4 separate regions of the Homo sapiens genome follow, and all the other regions are linked to region 1. Evidence: fine-mapped expression QTL. A gene starts in region 1. Each other region holds a variant in brackets. All regions are shown on one strand. Distances are between the middles of the regions. Region 1 holds the start of FAM167A (family with sequence similarity 167 member A). Region 2 overlaps FAM167A-AS1 (FAM167A antisense RNA 1). Region 3 overlaps FAM167A-AS1 (FAM167A antisense RNA 1). Region 4 overlaps FAM167A (family with sequence similarity 167 member A).

The links. PIP is the estimated chance that this variant, and not a neighbour inherited with it, causes the effect. A credible set is the group of variants that fine-mapping cannot tell apart.
Region 2: its variant is the best candidate, but not a certain one, in a credible set for the expression of FAM167A in thyroid (GTEx, PIP 0.71).
Region 3: its variant is the best candidate, but not a certain one, in a credible set for the expression of FAM167A in whole blood (INTERVAL, PIP 0.54).
Region 4: its variant is the best candidate, but not a certain one, in a credible set for the expression of FAM167A in unexposed skin (GTEx, PIP 0.50).

The regions. Positions count from the first base shown.
Region 1 is chr8:11,465,618-11,468,117 of GRCh38, reverse strand. FAM167A (family with sequence similarity 167 member A) reads left to right here and starts at 1,365. Exons shown (of 3, transcript NM_053279.3): 1 at 1,365-1,492. RefSeq lists an enhancer at 1-202 and a silencer at 1,448-1,657.
Region 2 is chr8:11,402,826-11,405,567 of GRCh38, reverse strand. The region is part of intron 3 of FAM167A-AS1 (FAM167A antisense RNA 1); the gene reads right to left. Among named protein-coding and RNA genes, the nearest start is that of FAM167A-AS1, 36 kb to the right of the region's middle. The variant G/A (reference allele first, on the strand shown) is at 1,118.
Region 3 is chr8:11,415,193-11,417,901 of GRCh38, reverse strand. All of the region lies in intron 3 of FAM167A-AS1 (FAM167A antisense RNA 1), which reads right to left. Among named protein-coding and RNA genes, the nearest start is that of FAM167A-AS1, 48 kb to the right of the region's middle. RefSeq lists enhancers at 411-910, 834-1,063, 911-1,412. The variant C/G (reference allele first, on the strand shown) is at 1,770.
Region 4 is chr8:11,423,900-11,426,641 of GRCh38, reverse strand. It overlaps FAM167A (family with sequence similarity 167 member A), which reads left to right. Exons shown (of 3, transcript NM_053279.3): 3 at 2,006-2,742. The coding sequence ends at 2,269. All of the region lies in intron 3 of FAM167A-AS1 (FAM167A antisense RNA 1), which reads right to left. Among named protein-coding and RNA genes, the nearest start is that of FAM167A, 41 kb to the left of the region's middle. RefSeq lists a silencer at 950-1,141 and enhancers at 1,031-1,573, 1,574-2,117. The variant G/A (reference allele first, on the strand shown) is at 1,258.

The DNA of each region.
Region 1 (2,500 bases):
GGTAAAGGGAGATCAGTATGGAGACTGCGTGCACGCTTGGACCCGGGTGGCAGGTCCCAGAACTGGGTAGGGCAAGCTGCTGGTGGCTTGGGTAGGGACAGTGGCAGCGGGCAGGAAGAAGGAAGGAGTGATGTTTAGGAGCTGGAATCAGAAGATCTGGATCAAGGCTGTGACTCTCCAAAAGATGCTTGTTAATACACCCGCTAGCTTAGGACCGTTCCCTCATTAGCATGACTAGGTCTGTACTGGCAAGATGTCTCCTTAGACGACGTCCCTCAGAGGACCTTCCAGTGAAGGTCAGAAAGGAAGGGAGTAGGTCAGGGCTGGATGCGGAGTTGCAGTGAAGGACGCGGGCACCAGAGGGCAGCACGAGTGTCTCGGGCCCCTGCAGGGGCTAAGACCCCACAGAAGGCCCGACCAGCCGCGCACCTGCCTGGAGCCTGCGCCAGTCACTTTGCAGCCCCACCACTCAGCTTCGCGTCTGGCCATGTAGGCGGCGCCTGCGCGCACGCCCAGGGCTATCGTGAGAATGGCAGACTGGAGCCCTTTGAAAGACGCTTCCAGCCCCGGGCATCTAGGAAAGGTGCTTGATGAGGTCTGGGGTAAGAGACCCCCATCCAGTAACCAGCCTTGGGGCCTCCAGTGTCTGGCCTGGGCCCCTCGTCAGAAGCTGGGACTGGTCCTGAAGACCTGCGGTCCGGGCAGCTCGGGCTGCTGTCCTGCCTGTGCCTTAGGGTTTGCAGCTCTGGGCTCTGATGCAGCAGGGACTGGGTCTTAGAATCTAACGACAGCCAGAGGTGGCCGATGCCGCGCCCCTGGCGGGACAGACACCCTGTGGTTAGTGGGGCAAACGCTCGCGTCTTTGCACCTCAGTTTCCTCATCTGGCAGCCAGAGATGCCTACACTTGCCCTGCTGGGTCGTTGGGGGGCGTGGCCCACGGTAGGCGCTCGCGGGCAGTCGTGGCCGCGGGTCCTATGAACTCCTGCCGTTTGGGGGTGGGTGAGGCCCTGGGCGTGGGGTCCCCCTGCGCCCTCCATGCGGACAAACTTCTGACAGTGGCGCAGTCACGTTGCCACAATTGGGGGAAACTGCCTTGGTTTCGGGTTTAATGAGAAAATGGATGTTTGGGTTTGGTTTCATCTGGGGTTTGGCGAAGGCATGTAGTTCCTCTCCACTCGCGGGGGCTGCCCGGGCCGGTGAACCGACAGGGCGCTAGGACCCGGGGCGCGCTCGGACCCGGGGCGAGAACGCGAGGCCGGGATCGCGGTGAAAGGCTCGCGGCGGAGAGCTCGGCCGTCGCCAGGCAACCGCCCTGACGCAACGCAGGGGGAAAAAAAAAGTCCTTTCCGAAAGGAGCAGCGCCGAGAATTCACCGGAGCTCGGGGAGGCGAGGCGGGAGCCCTGAGCTGAGGCCGGGCAGCGCGGACCCGCGCAGGAGGAGGCGGCGGGGACACCGGCGAGTCCCCAGCAGGGCCCCTGGGCTCCCGGAAGGTGGGTTCGCGCCGGCGGCGGGGACTTTCCCAGGGACTGGGAGGTGTGGCCGCGGCGGGCGGCGCAGTCTGGGCAGGGGCTGAGGCGTCGCAGGTCCCCAGCGCGAGCACTGGCCCGGAGCAGCCCGATCCCAAAGCGCCCTGGAGGGGACGCGCTCCTACCGCCCCCCCGGGAGAGGCCGCTCATGCGCTCCCGCGGGTTCGCTGCCCTCCCAGAGGAGCCGGGCAGCCAGGGCTGGACTTCATCTCCTAGCTCCCTGCTGGCCGTGTCCGGGCTCGGATTCTGGGTGGAGGTTCGGGGTCTGCCGTCTGAGAGGGAGGGCCGCACTCAGCCTCTCCGGGTCCACTCCCAGGCGGCTGGTGACCTCCAAGCCCAGCCTGGCTCCTGTGTATAGGTTCAGTGAGATGGAAGTTTCTGTCCCCACGGATGCGGTCCCTAACTAATGGGAGGTGGCCCAGGGCACCTGGACCCAAGGGTGCTCTAAGGACCCAAGCCAGTGTGACCTGAGGGAACGGCACAGCCGCAGGGGCCCCCGGGAATGAGCAGGTCAGCCGTGAAGGTGGGCACCCTGAGTCACCGAGACACCGGAGCACAGACGGCGGGGGGGAGGGTGTCTTCTTCAGCCAAGTTAGGTTGGATGTATAGGTTTTCTGCACACCCGTTACTGCCTGGTTTTTATTCCCGGCGGGGCTTGGAGGGAATTCTGAGGACTGGGACCTCCTGGGAAGATCTGGAAGGAGGGTTGACTCTAGGTTGGGGGCTGGCCACTGCCGTATGCCTGCAAGCAGGTTCTCCCAAGTCAAGTTTCCACAAACTCCCCGTCATTGCTGGAGAATCCCAGAAGATGAGATCACGTCCTATCCACAGGGTTTTCACCAAGGGGCACATGCTCCAAAGCAGCTTCCCACTGACACAGTAGACACAGTCCTGCCCCTCACTAAGCTCGGGATGGAGCGTGGAGAGCGTGGACAAAGTCTTGGGAAAGCAGAGGTGCTGTGGCGCCTGTTG
Region 2 (2,742 bases), 63 kb after region 1:
ATAGACATCTACAGAACTCTCTACCCCAAATCAACAGAATATACATTTTTTTCAGCACCACACCACACCTATTCCAAAATTGACCACATAGTTGGAAGTAAAGCTCTCCTCAGGAAGTGTAAAAGAACAGAAATTATAACAAACTGTCTATCAGACCACAGTGCAATCAAGCTAGAACTCAGGATTAAGAAACGCACTCAAAAGCGCTCAACTACATGGAAACTGAACAACCTGCTCCTGAATGACTACTGGAGACATAACGAAATGAAGGCAGAAATAAAGATGTTCTTTGAAACCAACGAGAACAAAGACACAACATACCAGAATGTCTGGGACACATTCAAAGCAGTGTGTAGAGGGAAATTTATAGCACTAAATGCCCACAAGAGAAAGCAGGAAAGATCTAAAATTGACACCCTAACATCACAATTAAAAGAACTAGAGAAGCAAGAGCAAACACATTCAAAAGCTAGCAGAAGGCAAGAAATAACTAATATCAGAGCAGAACTGAAGGAAATGGAGACACAAAAAACCCTTCAAAAAATTAATGAATCCAGGAGCTGGTTTTTTGAAAAGATCAACAAAATTGATAGACCACTAGCAAGACTAATAAAGAAGAAAAGAGAGAAGAATCAAATAGACGCAATACAAAATGACAAAGGGGATATCACCACCGATCTCACAGAAGTACAAACTACCATCAGACAATACTATAAACAGCTCTACGCAAATAAACTAGAAAATCTAGAAGAAATGGATAAACTCCTTGACACATACACTCTCCCAAGACTAAACCAGGAAGAAGTTGAATCTCTGAATAGGCCAATAACAAGCTCTGAAATTGAAGCAATAATTAATAGCTTACCAACCAAAAAGAGTCCAGGACCAGATGAATTCACAGCCGAATTCTACCAGAAGTACAAGGAGGAGCTGGTACCATTCCTTCTGAAACTATTCCAATCAGTAGAAAAAGAGGGAATCCTCCCTAACTCATTTTATGAGGCCAGCATCATCCTGATACCAAAGCCTGGCAGAGACACAACAAAAAAAGAGAATTTTAGACCCATATCCTTGATGAACATTGATGCAAAAATCCTCAATGAAATACTGGCAAACC[G/A]AATCCAGCAGCACATCAAAAAGCTTATCCACCATGATCAAGTGGGCTTCATCCCTGGGATGCAAGGCTGGTTCAACATACGAAAATCAATAAATGTAATCCAGCATATAAACAAAACCAAAGACAAAAACCACATGATTATCTCAATAGGTGCAGAAAAGGGCTTTGACAAAATTCAACAACGCTTCATGCTAAAAACTCTCAATAAATTAGGTATTGTTGGGACGTATCTCAAAATAATAAGAGCTATCTATGACAAACCCACAGCCAATATCATACTGAATGGACAAAAACTGGAAGCATTCCCTTTGAAAACTGGCACAAGACAGGGATGCCCTCTCTCACCACTCCTATTCAACATAGTGTTGGAAGTTCTGGCCAGGGCAATCAGGCAGGAGAAGGAAATAAAGGGCATTCAATTAGGAAAAGAGGAAGTCAAATTGTCCCTGTTTGCAGATGACATGATTGTATATCTAGACAACCCCATCGTCTCAGCCCAAAATCTCAAGCTGACAGGCAACTTCAGCAAAGTCTCAGGATCCAAAATCAGTGTGCAAAAATCACAAGCATTCTTATACACCAATAACAGACAAACAGAGAGCCAAATCATGAGTGAACTCCCATTCACAATTGCTTCAAAGAGAATAAAATACCTAGGAATCCAACTTACAAGGGATGTGAATGACCTCTTCAAGGAGAACTACAAACCTCTGCTCAATGAAATAAAAGAGGATACAAACAAATGGAAGAACATTCAATGCTCATGGGTGGGAAGAATCAATATCGTGAAAATGGCCATACTGCCCAAGGTAATTTATAGATTCAATGCCATCCCCATCAAGTTACCAATGACTTTCTTCACAGAATTGGAAAAAACTACTTTAAAGTTCATATGGAACCAAAAAAGAGCCTGGATTGCCAAGTCAATCCTAAGCCAAAAGAACAAAGCTGGAGGCATCACACTACCTGACTTCAAACTATACTACAAGGCTACAGTCACCAAAACAGCATGGTACTGGTACCAAAACAGAGATATAGACCAATGGAACAGAACAGAGCCCTCAGAAATAATGCCGCTTATCTACAACCATCTGATCTTTGACAAACATGACAAAAACAAGCAATGGGGATTCCCTATTTAATAAATGGTGCTGGGAAAACTGGCTAGCCATATGTAGAAAGCTGAAACTGGATCCCTTCCTTACACCTTATACAAAAATTAATTCAAGATGGATTAAAGACTTACATGTTAGACTTAAAACCATAAAAATCCTAGAAAAAACCTAGGCAATACCATTCAGGACATAGGCATGGGCAAGGACTTCATGTCTAAAACACCAAAAGCAATGGCAACAAAAGCCAAAATTGACAAATGGGATCTAATTAAACTCAAGAGCTTCTGCACAGCAAAAGAAACCACCATCAGAGTGAACAGGCAACCCACAGAATGGGAGAAAATTTTCACAACCTACTCATCTGACAAAGGGCTAATATCCAGAATCTACAATGAACTCAAACAAATTTACAAGAAGAAAACAAACGACCCCATCAAAAAGTGGGTGAGGCCGGGCGCGGTGGCTCACGCCTGTAATCCCAGCACTTTGGGAGGCCGAGGCGGGTGGATC
Region 3 (2,709 bases), 50 kb after region 1:
GGCAAAGGCCAGAAGTTACCCTACATGGTCTAAAAAGGGCAGGAACCCTCTGTTCCATTCCAGGATTTCCCCACCCCTTTCCCAGAAAATCCATGAATAATCTATCCCTTGTTTAGCATATGATCAAGAAATAACTAGAAATATGCCCATTCAAGCAGCCCCCGCCTGTGGAGCAGCCATTCTTTTCTTTCTTTCTTCATAAATGTGCTTTCACTTTACTCTGTGGATTCACCCCAAATTCTCTCTTGTGCGAGATCCAAGAACCCTCCCTTGGGGTCTGGATCAGGACCCCTTTTCAATAACAAATCAGTGGCACAGAGGAAGGGAGCCCGTGAGGTCGCTCCTATTTGTCTGTGAAATAGGGAAGTGAGTCGGAGGAGGTGGGATATTGGAGGTTTGCAAAGACATTTTTCAAATAATTACCTGAGAACGGGTGAGTTAATTAGGAAAGCGAAGATGGACCGTCTGGTCTGGTGGCGGGATTGCCCATTTGAGGCTGTGGTCATAAATGTGGGGTGTGTCCAGCAAGCCTGGTGGAGTGATTGATTTTTTCAGCAATATTTAGAAGTTCCAATACAGACAAAGACCAGGCAGACAGTGGGAGATAGGATTTGCCAAGCAGGTGACAGAGAACGGAAACAGCAAAAGTGAATGTTTTTTGCAAAGGAGCAATGTTAGTGTTAGACTGAGTCAGGAGGGAAGGACGACGAGAGGAAACGGGCCGGGAGAGCCAACGGAGCTGGAGGTAGGTGCATGGCCAGTGGTCTCCACGTGACCTGGGGGTTGCTAGGGTGAGTCCAGGAGAGATCAAGACTGAACAGGTGGAGACCAGAGTATGGGGAGAGGGGGAGCGACAGTTCAGATGTGGTGTGGCTTCTTCATTCAGAGACTCGGCCTGCTGCCACATTAGCTGCTGGTGCCCTGCTGAGCGTGGCCAGGTGCCCTGACCCATGGCTGGTGACGTCAAACTGTGGCTTCCTTGGCCTCCCAGAGATCTCGTCTCTCTTATGTTTGGAAAGGGTGTAAACTCCGTTTACACACACCCTTTTGACTTCTCAACAAGACCAGAAGCACTTCCCACTGGCTCCTTCTCCATGTCTAAGCCTGAAGTCTGTGGCCTAGACGACTTGGGGAAGGAGGCAGGCAGAAGAGGAGGAAGTTGGCAGTGACCAGAGCAGACAGGCCTGTGGTAACCAGACCCTATCTGATGGGAGCTGCTCAGCAGATTGAAGGTTTCAGACAGGGCTGTTTTTAAGTACCCCGTTCACAGGCTCAAAGCAAACAGCAAGGGAGACAGCTAGGCGGTCTCCAAAGGAAATTGATTAAGGAAGAGAAACCTCAGATGCGTTGGAACATTTATCATTTCTTTGAGGATACATGCTTGACGTGATGGATATTAATTACCCTGATTTGATCACTAGACACGGAATGCACAGAAACATCACTATATACCCCATAAATATGTACAATTATTATACATCAATTTTTTAAAAATTAAAAGGGAAAAAAGGTGTTTTAGCTAGGCATGGTGGCTCATGCCTGTAATCCCAGAACTTTGGGAGGCTGACATGGAAGGATTGCTTGAGCCCAGCAGTTCAAGACCAGCCTGGGTAACACAGAGAGACCTCATCTCTTTTTGTTTGTTTTTTTGAGACAGAGTCTGGCTCTGTTGCCCAGGCTGGAGTGCAGTGGTAGGATCTCAGCTCACTGCAACCTCTGCCTCATGGGTTCAAGCAATCCTCCTGCGTCAGCCTCCTGAGTAGCTGGGA[C/G]TACAGGTGTGCACTGCCACAGCTGGCTAATTTTTGTATTTTTGTAGGGATGGAGTTTCACCATGTTGGCCAGCTTGGTCTGAAACTCTTGACCTCAAGTGATCTGCCTGCCTCGGCCTCCCAAAGTGCTGGGATTACAGGAATGAGCCACCATGCCCCACCCTTGTCTATTTTTTATTTTTTAATCATAAAAAAATGAAGGTGTTTGCAGGCTGTAAGAATCCGTCATCCACCACTCGCTGCCAGGAACATTCCCGCCTGCAAGATGGTTACGAGGAAAGTGAGGCTTGGTGCAGCTTTGCAGGACAGTAGGGTATTTCCTGAGCCATTTGTTAAACAGAAAGCCCTGCACTGCTCATTCTCTTACTCCCTTCTCCATGCAAAGACTACTGAAGCTAAGGGGCATTTGCTAAAGAACAGCCAGAGTCCCAAGGGAAACCTGAGTTAGAGATGACAAGCCACACTCCTTGGCTCGCTCCCGGAGACTCACCCACCCAGGTGGTCCTGGCCTAGGCCTGGAGGGAGGGCTTTCAGGGAGCTCACCTCTGCTCCCCCACCCACTGCACTCTCGGCCTCATCTGGGAGGGGTACCTGGGCCTGGAGCAGGACAAATGCGTCTCCAACCTGTCGCCTCTGCACCAGTCTGGGTTTGGTCAATAAAGTGGAAGCCCCCTCAGTCTTCCATGAAGGAAAGGACCTGATTCAGGAACTAAGGGTTCACAGAACCCTTAGAAGGGCGGGGACAGGCAGTGTCCGGGAAGAGGCTGTGAGAAGAGGTGACTCACAGAGCTCATCCCCAAAGTCGCCCGGATTTCACCCAGCTCAGCAGGGGGCCTTTTTTGCACCGCTGTAGCTGGAACGGCTATGGAAAGCTGGTGATTCTCAAGAGGTCTGTCCACACCTCTGCCTGCTGCCACCACCGGGAATAAAGCTTCACTTG
Region 4 (2,742 bases), 42 kb after region 1:
AAATATTAAGGCCCTCAAAATCATCTTTGAGGAAAGGCATAGACCTGCCTCCCAGGTGTGCATCCTTAACGTCGGCAAAATAAACTTTCTAAATTGTTGACACCTGTCTCAGACACTTTTGGTTTACAGTGGGTTTGGGAAACTGGGAGTGTGAAGCCAGGTGAGAAATAATTATCACATCTCTTTGTTAACAGAAGAAAACAAACTCTGTAAAATACTTAAAGAGGTTTATTCTGAGCCAGTGTAAGTGACCATGGGCCAGGGAACAGTCTCATGAGGTCCTGAGAAAGCTCGCCCTAGGTGGTCCAGTTACTGTTTGGTTTTACACATTTCAGAGAGACAGGAGTTACAAGCAAAGACATAACTCAATACACAGAAGGTATACCTTGGTTCAGCCTAAACAGGTGGGATATCTTGAAGGGGCTTGGAGGGTGGGGGTGCTTACAGGTCTTAGGTAGATTCAAAGATATTTTTATTGCCAGTTGATTGAAAGAGTTAAGTTTTGCCTAAAGACTTGAAGTCAGTAGAAAGAAATGCTTAAGACAAAGGACAGTTGTGGAGGCCAAGGTTCTTGTTATGTAGATGAAGCCTCCAGGTAGAAGCCTTTAGAGAAAATAGATGGTAAATATCTCTTTTCAGACCTTAAATTTGCCAGACTCTCATTTAATCTCTCCTAGATCTTGGAAAGGCCTAGAAAGGGAAGGCTTGATTGCATTAATGGAAATGCTCTACAGATGTAAGTATCTCCCACAAGAGATGGTTTTGCAGGGCCATTTCAAAATATGTCAAAGAAATATACTTCAGGGTAAAATATTTTTATTTTCTTCAGGGTTTGCTACCTGTTATGTGACGCTATACCAGAGGCAGGAATTTGCTACCTTACTGCCACAAAGAGTCTGTTTTGTCAGTCTTATATCTCTATTTCAATGTTAATGCCGATCTGCTGTGCCTAAACTCCAACAGCAAGGGGGGGTATAACAAAGCATGTCTGAACTCCATTCCCATCACGGCTGGGAATTCAGTTTTCAGGCTTCTCTGGGGTCCTCTTGATGAAGAGCGGGCTTGTTCAGTCAGTTGGGGGGCTTAGGATTTTACCTTGTGTTTACACATCAATAGGAAACATCAAGCCACTAAAAATATTAGGAACCTTCTACAAGGTCACTAAGCACTCTGCTAGCTCCATACACCACACTGCAGCTCGTCCTTGAGCAGCAGAACTTCATTGTCAGTCATTTTGGTTCTGGAGTCCAGCTGTCC[G/A]GCTTCCTCATCCCAGCTCGGCTGTGGATGAGCTTTGTGAGCCGACACAGCTAATTCCCTGGCTGTGCCTCTGTGTCCTCCTCTATAAGCTGTGGGTGATGATGGTGACATCACTTCACAGGTTGTAGTGACGGTTAACTGTTGCATGTTAATAGACCCAAAGGCCTTAGAACTGTTTCATAATAAAACACCCAGTACCTAGGAACCAATTTTTGTTTGGCTGTTTTGAAACTTTACTAAGAAATATTTCAGGCATTCTAAAACGTTTAAAGAGTAATGTAACAACATGACACTCCCCAGCGTAAGAAAGAAAACATGGCCATCACAGTCAAAGCCCCCATATACCTTTCCCAATCACAGTCCCTCCTTCTCACCTAGAGGCAACCATCCTCCTGAATTTGATAGCTGTTACCCTATGTTTTCCTTTATACTCTTACTCCATCTAAATGAAACTCTAAACAATGAGAAAGCACTGGAAGTATCTTCTAGCCAGGACCAATATGCATGTCTTTCAGAAGGACTTAGATACAGCAACTAGCCTAGCACAAAGTATTGTTTTGCGACCGCACCCTCATTTGTCACCTTGCTTTCTGTGTCTTTTCACCTCCCTGAGCAGGGAAAGTGCTAATATTTCTAGATGGACCACTTAATGAACTAAGACATTAGTCAGGGCCCTGCTAACCAGTCTGTGCCTGTCAGGGACTCGAGCCACTCTCTGCTGACCCTGCCTGCTCCCCCTCCCTTCCAGACGGAGATGCGGCTGCAGGACCAGCAACTGGCCAGACAGCTCATGCGCCTGCGTGGCGACATCAACAAGCTGAAAATCGAACACACCTGCCGCCTCCACAGGAGGATGCTCAACGATGCCACCTACGAGCTGGAGGAGCGGGATGAGCTGGCCGACCTCTTCTGTGACTCCCCTCTTGCCTCCTCCTTCAGCCTCTCCACACCACTCAAGCTTATTGGCGTGACCAAGATGAACATCAACTCTCGGAGGTTCTCTCTCTGCTGAGGAGCCCTCAGACTGGGCGGAGGGGCTGGAGCGGAGGGCTTGGGCTGGAGGGGTGTCAGAGGAAGCTGAGGCCAAGTTACTCCAGTGGGTCTCCCGGAGGCAGGGGTCCCTGGGACTGGCGACTCAAGGGCCCCAGGACCTATTCAGTGGTGCTCTCCCACCCAGGGGCCCTGGGTGTGGATGCCAGTGTCTCTGTGACTGGCTCTTGCTTACTACCCAAAGAGCTCTGCAGAAGGGCCGCTCCAACCAAGATGTTAAAGGAGACCTGGGTTCCCACCATAATCCATCCCTCCACGGTCACGTTCCTGTTTCCTGGAATCACTGGTGCTATGAACTGGGATTCCCAAAGGGAGGCCCCCCAACAAAGCTGTCATTTTTGCAGAAGGCTGTCCCGCAAGGGCCTTGGGGGAAATTAGGCATGTCAGATGTGCCTGTCTCACGTGCTGTTGCTGTCCTCTAAGTATTGTCTCAAA